Homo sapiens: one gene and its partners. The protein of the gene in region 2 purifies or fractionates together with the protein of the main gene of each other region. This does not show direct contact. Each region holds a gene or a part of one and is shown on either strand. Other genes may lie near its edges.

Region 1 (3,651 bases), on a different chromosome or scaffold from region 2:
CAACTTTTGGTTCACCTGGATTGTAGTTGCTGACTTCAGGACCTTTAGAGAATGTTTAAATTCAGTGGGATATGCTTGGATGGTTCAGAGCAGCCTTACAATACATCTTAAAAATATCACACCCACAGAAATTCTATTTTGCCCACAAAATTTGCATTGATCTAGTTCCCACTCTGTGTTGCCATTCCTAGTGATCCTCCTCCCTACCTCTCCCATTATGGTAGAAAAAACTCTGTGTCCTGGCTACATCAAAATCTGTTGGGGTGGATCTTGGACTCAGCACCCAGGGATTCTGATAAGGTAAGTTTGAGAATCCATATTTTTTCAAGGTTTACAGGTGATTCTGACAAGTAACTTGGTTGCAACCCACTGATTAAGTACATTTTTTTTTACCTTCAGGTGTGTGTATGAGGTCTTTCTAAATTTAAGAAATTTCCATAACAAATGTAACCTTAGTCATTCCAGTGTTTAACGCTTCTGACTCAAGGAATTTAAAAATTGCTAACGTAAGAGATATAGAATATAATGTCATTTCTTCTATTTATCTGGGTGCAATATGTCTGCATTGACCCTTTAGAAGGGCTTCATATATTTAGATGATATAATAAATTCTCCACCTCTCCTTTTCCCTTTTCTTCTGTTATCTCTTTTTCCTTAAATGTCATTCATACATGTTGTTTTTTGACCCTTTATCTATATACGTCTGCAATGATTTTAGAGTAAAAAACTGCAAGGCGTGATTTGAATAAGGATATAAGAAATTTTACATCATTTTCTTTATATTGTGTTCACAGTCCATAGTTACATGCTTCCTTTCTTGATGTCTCAGTTCGAATGCCTAAATTTGAACTATTGATTTTCCTTCCACCCTTTCCTGATTTTCCTGTTTTTGTTTCTCCCCCTTTCTCTGCAAATGACTTGAAACCAAAAGGTCTTCTTTTCTTTCTTTGTCAGCCTACCGTATGTGTAGTATTTTGGACAGATCACTGAACTAGGAGCCAGAAGACCAGAATTCTTCTCCAGGTCTGTTATTAATTGGTTTGGTGACCTTGTAGGAGAGCCACTGTTTCCGTCCTCCATTTTCTGATGTTCATTGTTCATGGTCACAGAGCCAATTAGAGTTGAGACTAGAATTCCTTTCTTCTGGTGTCCAGTGCCTCATTCACTGTCCTCATTGCTTCCATCTCGTGTACAAATGCGCTTATGTGCACAAAAACTCTTATAACATCCTCAAGTGCTTATTGTTAATGCGTACATGAGGAAGGAATCGTGTATTTTCATTTATGTGTTTATTCTAATGCCCATACCCTACCCCTGTACCTGGCATGATGCCTTGGTATCTAATAGGCACACAATAAATACTTGTTCAGTCGAACAATTATTTTTAGCCATTTTCTTATTTTGGACAACTGTGGTACTCCTAGACATTTTAAAAACAGTATTTGCAGGAGTCATGCTTACCTTACATTTGGGGAAAAACCAAATTTTTCCCTTCCCCAGATGTTTCATTTTAACTTGTAATTTTGAATTTCTTTGTGTGTGGGGTTTCTTTCTTTCTTTTTCTGATCACTTCTGCAATTTATAAAGGTCACTTTGACTTTGGAATCTCACTTCAAAGGCACTGCCATCCACCCCCTGCCTCTCACTCAAGTTTGCTTCCACTGCTTCCTGTATTACTGTATTACTAGGCCAGCAATTTCTGTTATTTTGTCCAGAATAGCCACACCTTATTGTAATTTCATCATTTTGGGGACTAGTCATTTTTGGAATACTATTTTTAAAATTAGAGTTAACTAAGTTTATATTTATTTTGATAATTTTTTTTGAGATTTTTTTCATTGAGTTGGATATTGCAAACTTGTACTGGATTGAGAGAATATGTACATTTAGTAAAGTATATTTGCTTTTTTTTTTTTTTGAACCAAGAGAGTCCCCTGAACACCCTACTGACAAAAACTAAAGATGAAATATGATGAATAAATATTTGAGAGAATCACATGGTGTTGAGTTGTCTCTGCCACATGATTTTGATCCTTGAGGGCCAGGTCTGTGCTACACACATTTCTTCTCTGTACTACAGAACTTGTCTGGCATGTGCCCCAAATTCAGAGTCAACTGAGCAGCAGGTCTTAGTCACAGCATCTATGACTCCTGCTTTCCCACCTTTAGAACATTCTATAGGAGAGGCTGATGGTGAGTTGGAGTGTGTTTCTATGTTCTTTTTTCCTTTGAAGAGATAGGATCAGTTGAAAGCTGACCCCACCCACAGACTTTTTTTGCTATCTCTTTTAATTAATTAAGGAGTGGCTGAAATTTTCCTCTTTGTTGACTTATGCATTGGCGGGAACTTTAAAATTCATCTAGTCTTTCTGTCCATCCCATGCTGGATCTGATGTTTACAACATTCTAGTCAAGAGGTACCATATTTTCTCTCTTCTTGAACATCTCTTGTGGTAGACAGCTCTCCACAGCAGTTTATTCCATCTTTGGCCAGCTCTAATTCTTAGAAAGATCTTCTTATATTCAGCTGTAATCCGTCTCCTCATGACTTGTCCTCATTGACATCTACTCAGAAATTTGTCTCAGAGTCCTGAGACCTGTGCAGGTGATAGGGACCCAAAGAGATGCTTGTCTGTAGACTTTACTGAGCTGACACCCAGCTCTCCATAAAAGGAGTCAAACCCAGTGAGGAGCATGTCTGAGGTGATTGCTCAGGTAAAGCATCTTAGCCCTACTTGTTTCATACCTCCCTGCACAGGTGGGCACTGGTGGGAGAATAACATTTATCAAGCAGTGTTTCCCTAACCTCTCTTATGATAAGAATAGCTCAGGTGTTCTCATGGAGATTCTGATTCAGTGCATCTGGAGTGTCATCTGGGAATTTGTGTGTTCAAGAAATAGCCAGGTGATTCTTACATTAGGAAAGTTTTAGAATCACTGCAGAGTGAATCTGGGAAATCAAAGTGTTTTTGTTTGTTTGTTTTTTGAGAGTATTAGAGACAGGTTGCTTTGGCTAGATCCTGTGGTCATTTTTCCCCCTTGGAAATGCCTCCTACTTGCTGGCCTCACTTAGTACAGAGAAGAAAGCTGCTATGGTATAAGGTTAGTAAAGTTGTTTTGTCTTAAAAGAAATTTGCGAAATCCAGCATTTTCAGACTTCTGTTTGTGTTGTATGACTTTGTTGTAAGCCTCCTTATTCCTCCATTAGAATGTTACCTGAGATGTTAGAATGCATAGGAGTTCCACAGCCTTTTTGGTGTCCACTAAAGAATTCTGTCCTCAGCCGTTGCAAATGGTGCTTCCTTTGAGGATTTCTGCTTCATTAGCTCATGAACACATATTTGGTGTCGGCAGTTTCCCTCAGATGTGTTAGTGTGGAGAGATATAAAGGTCACTCATTTCTGGCAGTCCTGCTTTTGGGGTTTCTGGGCTGCTGCAGCAAATGAAATAAGGAAAGGAAAATAAAGGAGGAATCTAGGGCTTCTTGAGCAGAACAAAACAATCTGCAAGAAGGGGCACAGGATTGCTCCTCTCACAAAGACACTTGATAATACTGTCCTTGATAGGAAGAAGGAAGTGGCTTCAGATCTGAAAGGATATGCTCATAGGCTTGAGACGGGACAAACTGCATCACTGGTAGTGGTAGGAGGT
Region 2 (3,651 bases):
GGACGCCTGTGCTTGGGGGAGAGGTCCTTCGTGGAGGGCTGTGTTGGTCTCTAGAAAATTCTGTGGGTAGACACCAGGAGGCATGAGGTCCTGGGAGGCACCTGTGGGCCGTGTGACCTCCATGGTCTGTGTGGCCTCGGACTCGGGTGTACAGACTTCTATCCTGAATGGGAATCCACATTTTTGTGTTCTATGTTCTTGGCCTAGATTACTTTTCATCTCTCTCTGAAATCTCTCCCAGGTAGACTGGTCATTTACAGAGTGAGTGTAGGACCGTCTGCCTGGAGTCCTGACTGCCCCGAGTCCCAGCTGGCCCATGAGCTCAGACTGCCCCTTGGGCCTCAGCACCCGCAGGGCTGGACGCTGATGTAAACTCAGCTGTGCTGTGGTTGGTTGCACGCTGGATAAAACTTTAACCACGGCGGCCTTTATCTTGGTCACCAACAGTTATGGTGGGTGGGAGACCTGGGGGAGGGGGTACCAGCCTTGCTCTGGGGGCCCTGGAGAAAAACTCACAATGAGGCGAAACCTGGAGAAATCCAAGCTCCAAGTTCAGTCTTTCTAACCGGAGGTAGAAGGTGCCGGGCCAGATGTTAGGAACTTGCAAACATTCTTTCTGCTGATTAAAGTGGTGATTGGTCTTGAAGACGTTGGGCTGCGGGTCACATGCTCTGTGGCCTGAGCTTTGTTCTGCTTCTGGGTGAGATTCTTAGAGAGGCTGTGGTGTAGTCCGTCCCTGCCACGCACACCTGGACGTCCACACTGGCACAGGCCCGATTTCTACATTTCCAGGGGAAATTCAATGGTTCTAGTTGTCAGCTGGGGCGACCCTTACGGAGCCTGTGCCCTCACCTTTGGGAACAGAGACTTTGTCTCTCCTGCCTCTGGGGGTGGGGTCCGAGGCCTACAGGCCCTGTGTAGGCTGGGGCGGTGGGTGGGTTTGGGAGAGGCATGGGATGGTAGGGGCTGAGCTGCCTTGGGGTCCTGTGGGGTTGCAGGGAGGCAGCGGCCTCTTGTGAGGAGTGACTTGAGCCCCAAGGGACCAGAGCAGGCATTCGGCGGTGGGTCCTCGCTCACCCTCCGTGTGCCTCCTGGGCCTGTGGGGTCCTGCGCAGGTCTGTGGCCCCAGTACACGTCAGGCTGGCTTGGGGTCCCAGAACTTTGCTGTGTCCTGTGAGGCAGGTGCTTGGGTTTCCTTGTTTACACTTGGTGACCCTGCGGCATCTGCTTAAACCGAGCCTGAGGTGATTTCCAGTGCCCTGTGGGTGGTGGGTTGCTTATCCGAGGAAGCAGACATGCAGGGATCCTCGGAACTGACAGGGGCCCAGACTCTGAGGTTCACCGGGGGCCCCCGGAGCTGGGACCCACGCCTGGCATCTCACGGGAACGGGCACAGATGCAGGCCCCTCCCTGGGCTGAGCACCTCCAGGGCCCTCACGAGAGGCCTCTCCTATCCTGATGGGGTGGAGGGGCAGGAGGGATCCGAGGAGGCTGATACCTCTCCTCTCCCCAGGGTATTCGCCTTTCATCAGGGGACGGGGGCCCCTAAGCCTTTAATGCTGCAGGAATGGGTACATAATGTGGAATGTCGGTGCCGGCCGTCTGGCAGCAGTGACGCCATCCCCTGGGCCAGGCCGGCTCCCCAGCACTCTCCGGCCAGCGCCGCGGTTTCCCTTGCCTCCCGTTCCTGCACTTGCTGTAGCTGCGAGAGCCGACGGAGGCTGAGCCGGGCAGCGCCAGCCCCGCCGAGCCTGAGGTGAGCCTGAGCCTTTGGCCTGGCAGCACGACCCACGGGAGGTGGACGAGCTCGTCTGTGTGTCAGAAGTTCCAGTTTGTGCTGACTCAGGAGGACAGAGGCTCCGTGGGCTGGAACCCCGGACAGGAGAGGGTGTGTGAGCCCCGTCCCCTGCCCAGCCAGGAGGAAATCCCCCGCTCCGGTGGGTTTCGTTGGTGTGATCGTGGTGCGTTCATGCTGCATAATCGGCTTCCTTGAGTAAACTGAGACACGCCGATGACCAAGAGTTGGCCGGAACACGGGGGCAGGCTGCTCCTCCAGGGGTACACACTGGGGGCCAGGCGGGAGGGGACCCGGCCCCAGGACCTTGGGATTTGGCTGACTACGGGCAGGACCTCTCAGCCCTGCACCAGCCGCCTCTGCAGGCGACACGGACGCCTTCCTTGGATGCTGAGGAAACCCCGCAGGATGGGGGTGGCAGAGAGTGGTCAGGTGCAGCTTCCGGCCGTGCCCAGACCTGTGCCCAGCAGACCTGGCTGAGGCCGTGTGGGGCTGCTGTTTGCAGGCCAGGGAATCCGGGAAACGGGCACCGTTCAGTGGCTTGGGGAATGTGGGTGGGGGCTGTCTGGTTCTGGGGTACACAGACCCGAGACAGTCCAGGCAGGTCCCAGGATTCCAGTCTGTTCTTCAGCTTCTCCCAGGGCTGTGTGTCAGATGCTCCTGGCTTGGCCACATCTGTGCTTGGGGTTTGGGGTGCAGGCTCTGTGTAAGGCCCCCCAATGCAGGCCCCAGTGAGCAGGTGCCCAGGGCCGGGCAGCAGCATCGTGGACACAGGCAGTGGGAGGGGAGGGGATGCTGCCTTGATGCTGATCATGAGCACGTGGTGCCGTCCCTGGCTCTCCAGGACGCCGGAGTCCTGCAGCGTCTCAGGGGCCTCAACGCCTCCCCCCTTTAAAATCCTGCCCCTGGCTGAGCCCGTAGGTGAATGACCAGCTCGGCGGGCGCAGAGCCCCTGCCGATGAGCCCCCTCCAGGAGCCTCAGAGTTTGGAGAAGTCCTTGATGGGTGGGAGGGATGGGTGGAAAAGTGTGGAAGATAATTCTCATTATTTCCTGGAAGTAGAGGAGAGGGGCTGATTTTTCCAAGGCGTCCCATCTCTCGTCCATCTTTGGCTTCCTGCTTGGTGCCTTCTCTCCGGCCACTGTAATTTTCATTTTAACCATCTCTGGGCTTGTGGAGAGGAAGGGTGTGGCCCCCGCCAGCTTCCTCACCAGGAAGAGGGAGGGAGAAAGGGAGGCAGGGGGAAGGGCAGGGGCTATGGGGCCAACACCCCCGGGGCACCCCAGCAATGGACTGCAGCCTGGAGTGCGGCCGCAGCGCGACGGTGATGATGGTGGCCTTGAGGGGAGCCTTGGGAGCTCAGCCTTGGGTCCTCGAGCCCACTGGAGCCCACCCTCCACCCCTACCCACTGCTCCCTGTTCTTGGCTCCTCTGAAAGCACCTTATCCCCGTCACCGGCTCCTCTAAAAGCAGCGTGTCCCCCCGCTACCCCGTCACCACCTGTGTGGGAGACCCAGTAATCGTGGCCACAGAGGTTTCCCGTCGGAACTGTGTGAGTCCCTCTGGCTGTCCTTACCTGGGCAGTCCTGCCGGACCGGTCGGTGTCTGTCATTCTCAGCCTCTCCTCGGAACCAGCCGGTCCTGCCTCTCTACTTAACACCTGCCGTGCAATCTAAGTCCCCGCAGCAGCGTCCCCAACCCCACCCTGCCGGTCCCTCCCACCCTGTTCATGCTAGCTCCTGAGAGACCTGCCTGAGATGTCCACACCCCAGCCCTCCCCCTCCGAGGAGGATGGACCAGGATTCCAACCCTTTGCCGACCCTCCCCACCGCCCTGGAGACGAGGTGCAATGTGTCC
Region 3 (3,651 bases), on a different chromosome or scaffold from region 2:
CCGAAGCCGTCAGGTGAGTACCTGCATCGCCTTTGTCACCCTTCGCTCCGTCTCGTCCATCTCTTCCAGGCAGACCATTGTGACCGGGGTTCCCAGGGATTCCAGGGTGCCCTTGCCTGCAGGTGTCCTGTGAGTTTATGTTCCCTGTGCAGATTTCAATGGCAAGCAGAAGCCACCAGATCCTCATGGTTCAGATGACAGACTCTGAACTGAAAGAGGGAAACAGAAACCCAAAGGAGAAATCTTTGTTGCTGGGGCCCTGGACACAGCCTCTGTTCCGTGCAGTGGGAAATGGATGAGCTGTCCCCTGCCCCAGACCCACACCTGCACAAACTTGGACAGAAGGCTCAGGGCAGGGGAGCAAGCTGATTATAACCAGAATGACACTGTCCTTGGAAGGTAACACTTGTGATTGGAACCACTCTTCAAGGTGAACGGGCAATTTAAAAAGCCAAGTTTAAGGTCAGGATACTCTTCCGTTCATCATTTCACTTTGAAGAAATCACTTTTCTGAACCAGAGATCAATGCTTACTTATCTCACAGGACTGTCGTACAGATCAAATTTTATCACGATATGCATAAAGGCACATTCCAAGTAGTGAAGCAAACATAGCATTACCATCTGATCCAGCAATTCCACTGCTGTGCATCTACACAAAATAATTGAAAGCAAGGACTGGAACAGATGTCCATGTTCGTAGTTGCATTATTTTCCATAGCAACCCAAGGGTCCCTCAGTGGATAAATAGATACATGCAATGTGGTAGGTCCATACAATGGAATATTCTTCAGCCTTAGAAAGAGAAGAAATTCTGACACATGTTACAACATGAATGGACCTCGAGAACATTATGCGAAGTGAAACCAGCTAGTCACAAAAAGACAGACCTGGATAATTTCACCTATAAGAGGTTCCTAGAGCCGTCAAACTCATATAAAGAAAAAGTAGGATGGAGGTTGCCAGAGGTGAAGAGAGAAGGAAATGGGAGTTGTTTGATGGGTACAGAGTTTCTGTTTGGGAAGATTTTAAAAGAGTTCTGGAGATGGGTGGTGGTGATGGTTGCACAACAAAGAGAACGTACATAATGCCACTGAATTGTGCCCTTAAGATGGTTAAGCTGGTTAGTTTTACGTTTTATGTTATATATTTTTTACCACATTAAACAATTAAATTAAATTTTTAAAAAAGTAAAGCATTCCAAGAAGTCTTACTGTAGTGAGAGGTGTTCTTTGAGTCAGGGTCTTGTTTTTCTAGGAGGCCACTGTGAAGAAGGGCCACACACACGGAAACATCACCTAGTTCGGGAGAAATGCATTTTCAAGTCCTTTCCTTATATATAATTTTTGGAGACAAGGTCTTGCTCCATCACGCAGGCTGAAGTACAGTCATGCAATCACAGCTCACTGTAGTCTCAACCTCCCAGCTCAAGCGATTCTCTTGCTTCAACCTCCCAAGTAGCTGGGACTACAGGCATGCACCACCACACCTGGGTTTGGTTTTGTTTTGTTTTGTTTTCGAGATGCAGTTTCGCCCTTGTGGCCCAAGCTGGAGTGCAATGGCCGATCTCTGCTCACTGCTGCCTCTGCCTCCCAGGTTCAAGCAATTCGGCTTCTCAAGTAGCTGGGACTACAGGCGCCACCACCACGCCTAGCTAATTTTTGTATTTTTAGTAGAGACGGGGTTTCACCATGCTGGCCAGGCTGGTCTCAAACTCTTGACCTCAGGTGATCTGCCTGTCTTGGCCTCCCAAAGTGCTGGGATTACAGGCATGAGCCATTGCCTATTTTTCTTTCTTTCTTTTTTTTTTTTTCTTTGGAGAGACTGGGTCTCACTCTGTTGCCCAGGCTGGTCTTGAAATCCTGAGCTCAAGTAATCCTCCCGCCAGTCTCCCAAAGTGCTAGTATTACAGGCTAAAGACCCTGTACCTGACTTTTAGGATTTAAAAAAATGAAGTAAAACAAAAACGTGGGCATAGTGCAACTGGTCAGAACCCAGATCCTCTCACAGTGCTGATAGCCATGTAAATCTGCACATCTTTCTGGAAAAGTTAAAGAGCAAAAGACATCTATGTCTTTCACCCTGTATTGCTATCCCTAAAATTCTTCCTAATGTTCCAAAACTGTGTGCCAATTGTGTGCCATTACCTGCAGCATTATCTATAACAGGTGAAAACGTGCATACTACATACTATGTAACAATAGGGGAAAGGTTTACTATGTGTAATAGTATGTAACTGCTGCAATAATTATGAAGGTCATGTAGAAATATGTAAATGATATACATTGTGCTGAATTTTGATAGTAGACTAAAATGCCATGCACATTATAAATGTACTTACGACTGTATGAATATTGACAAAAACTCAAAGTGAATATATGCAAATAAAGATGGTTGCTTTAGAATGGGGGGCAGTTATGGGAGCTTTTCATTTATAAAAAATGCTTTTTTATAGTGCCTACACAAATATTTCTAGAGATTTTGAAAACCAGCAAGACTCTCTGTCATCCAAAGACTGTATTGCCATCTGGTGGAAATGTCACAGGGAGCAGTCTAATGCAAATGGAGTATTTTTGGGAAAGGAAATGCAGATGCTTCCCTTCGAAGTCACAAATTCGCTCCATTCCAGGAAATTGAGTTGAGTTTTCTTGGAGCCAAATTCCATGAAGAATATACACGAGCCTCCTTTGCTAAACTCAGAAGTGGCCGGAAGCAGTCAAATCGAAATTCCATCAACCAAACTTTGTTGAGGGTTCTATAATTTTCATTTTAACTTTTCAAAATGTGGAGTACAACTATTCCAGGAATAAAATGATCAGAAGATCATAAAGGTGTCAGGTTAGGATAAACTCCAATTTGCTCTCCAGGGAAGAAGAAGCCAGCCTGGAAGCAAATGGTTACTCTTCTGTAATTATTTCACTAGTTTTGCATATTTGATGTAGGTAGAGTCTATCTAGCTTGTTTATACAGCATGTAGACAACCTTCAGCAAATGATTTTGATTAACTAATATGCGTTCTCCCAAATACGTAGCAAAGTAAGTTGTGCCACTATTTCTGTTTTATTTGTTTGTTTGTTTGTTTGTTTATAGAGATACAGTCTCATGAATGTTGCCCAGGCTGGACTCGAACTTCTAGGCTTAAGTGGTCCTCCTGCCTCAGCCTTCTGAATAGCTGGGATTAGAGACGTGGTCACCACCTAGGTTGGCACTATTTTTTTTTTCTTTTTTTTTTTTTTTGAGATAGAGTCTCGCTCTGTCGCCCAGGCTGGAGTGCAGTGGCGCGATCTTGGCTCACTGCAAGCTCTGCCTCCCGGGTTCGCACCATTCTCCTGCCTCAGCCTCCCGAGTAGCTGGGACTACAGGCACCCACTACCATGCCCGGGTAATTTTTTGTATTTTAGTAGAGACGGGGTTTCACCATGTTAGCCAGGATGGTCTCGATTTCCTGACCTTGTGATTCGCCCACCTCGGCCTCCCAAAGTGCTGGGATTACAGGTGTGAGTCACTGCACACGGCCGCTTGGCACTATTTTTTAATAAGAAATTTTAGCAAGTTTATACCTCCTATTTAGCCTCTTCTTTAATGTAGAAGGTTGAGGATTTGCACAAGGAATATAGAAGAAATTATATTAATGTTATTTTGAAAAATAAAA

The links.
Region 1: the proteins of METRNL (region 2) and NOTCH2 purify together in Homo sapiens (co-immunoprecipitation; one large-scale study listed by IntAct). This does not show direct contact.
Region 3: the proteins of METRNL (region 2) and C1QTNF9 purify together in Homo sapiens (co-immunoprecipitation; one large-scale study listed by IntAct). This does not show direct contact.

Annotation. Positions count from the first base shown.
Region 1 is NC_000001.11:120,063,019-120,066,669, reverse strand, and holds part of NOTCH2 (neurogenic locus notch homolog protein 2 isoform 1 preproprotein), read left to right. Parts: intron 1-3,651. UniProt on the Homo sapiens protein: Functions as a receptor for membrane-bound ligands Jagged-1 (JAG1), Jagged-2 (JAG2) and Delta-1 (DLL1) to regulate cell-fate determination.
Region 2 is NC_000017.11:83,086,030-83,089,680, forward strand, and holds part of METRNL (meteorin-like protein isoform 1 precursor), read left to right. Parts: intron 1-3,651. UniProt on the Homo sapiens protein: Hormone induced following exercise or cold exposure that promotes energy expenditure. Induced either in the skeletal muscle after exercise or in adipose tissue following cold exposure and is present in the circulation.
Region 3 is NC_000013.11:24,312,540-24,316,190, reverse strand, and holds part of C1QTNF9 (complement C1q and tumor necrosis factor-related protein 9A precursor), read right to left. Parts: intron 1,298-3,651; exon of another isoform or gene 1,214-1,297; intron 210-1,213; 5' UTR 188-209; coding exon 22-187; intron 1-21. UniProt on the Homo sapiens protein: Probable adipokine. Activates AMPK, AKT, and p44/42 MAPK signaling pathways.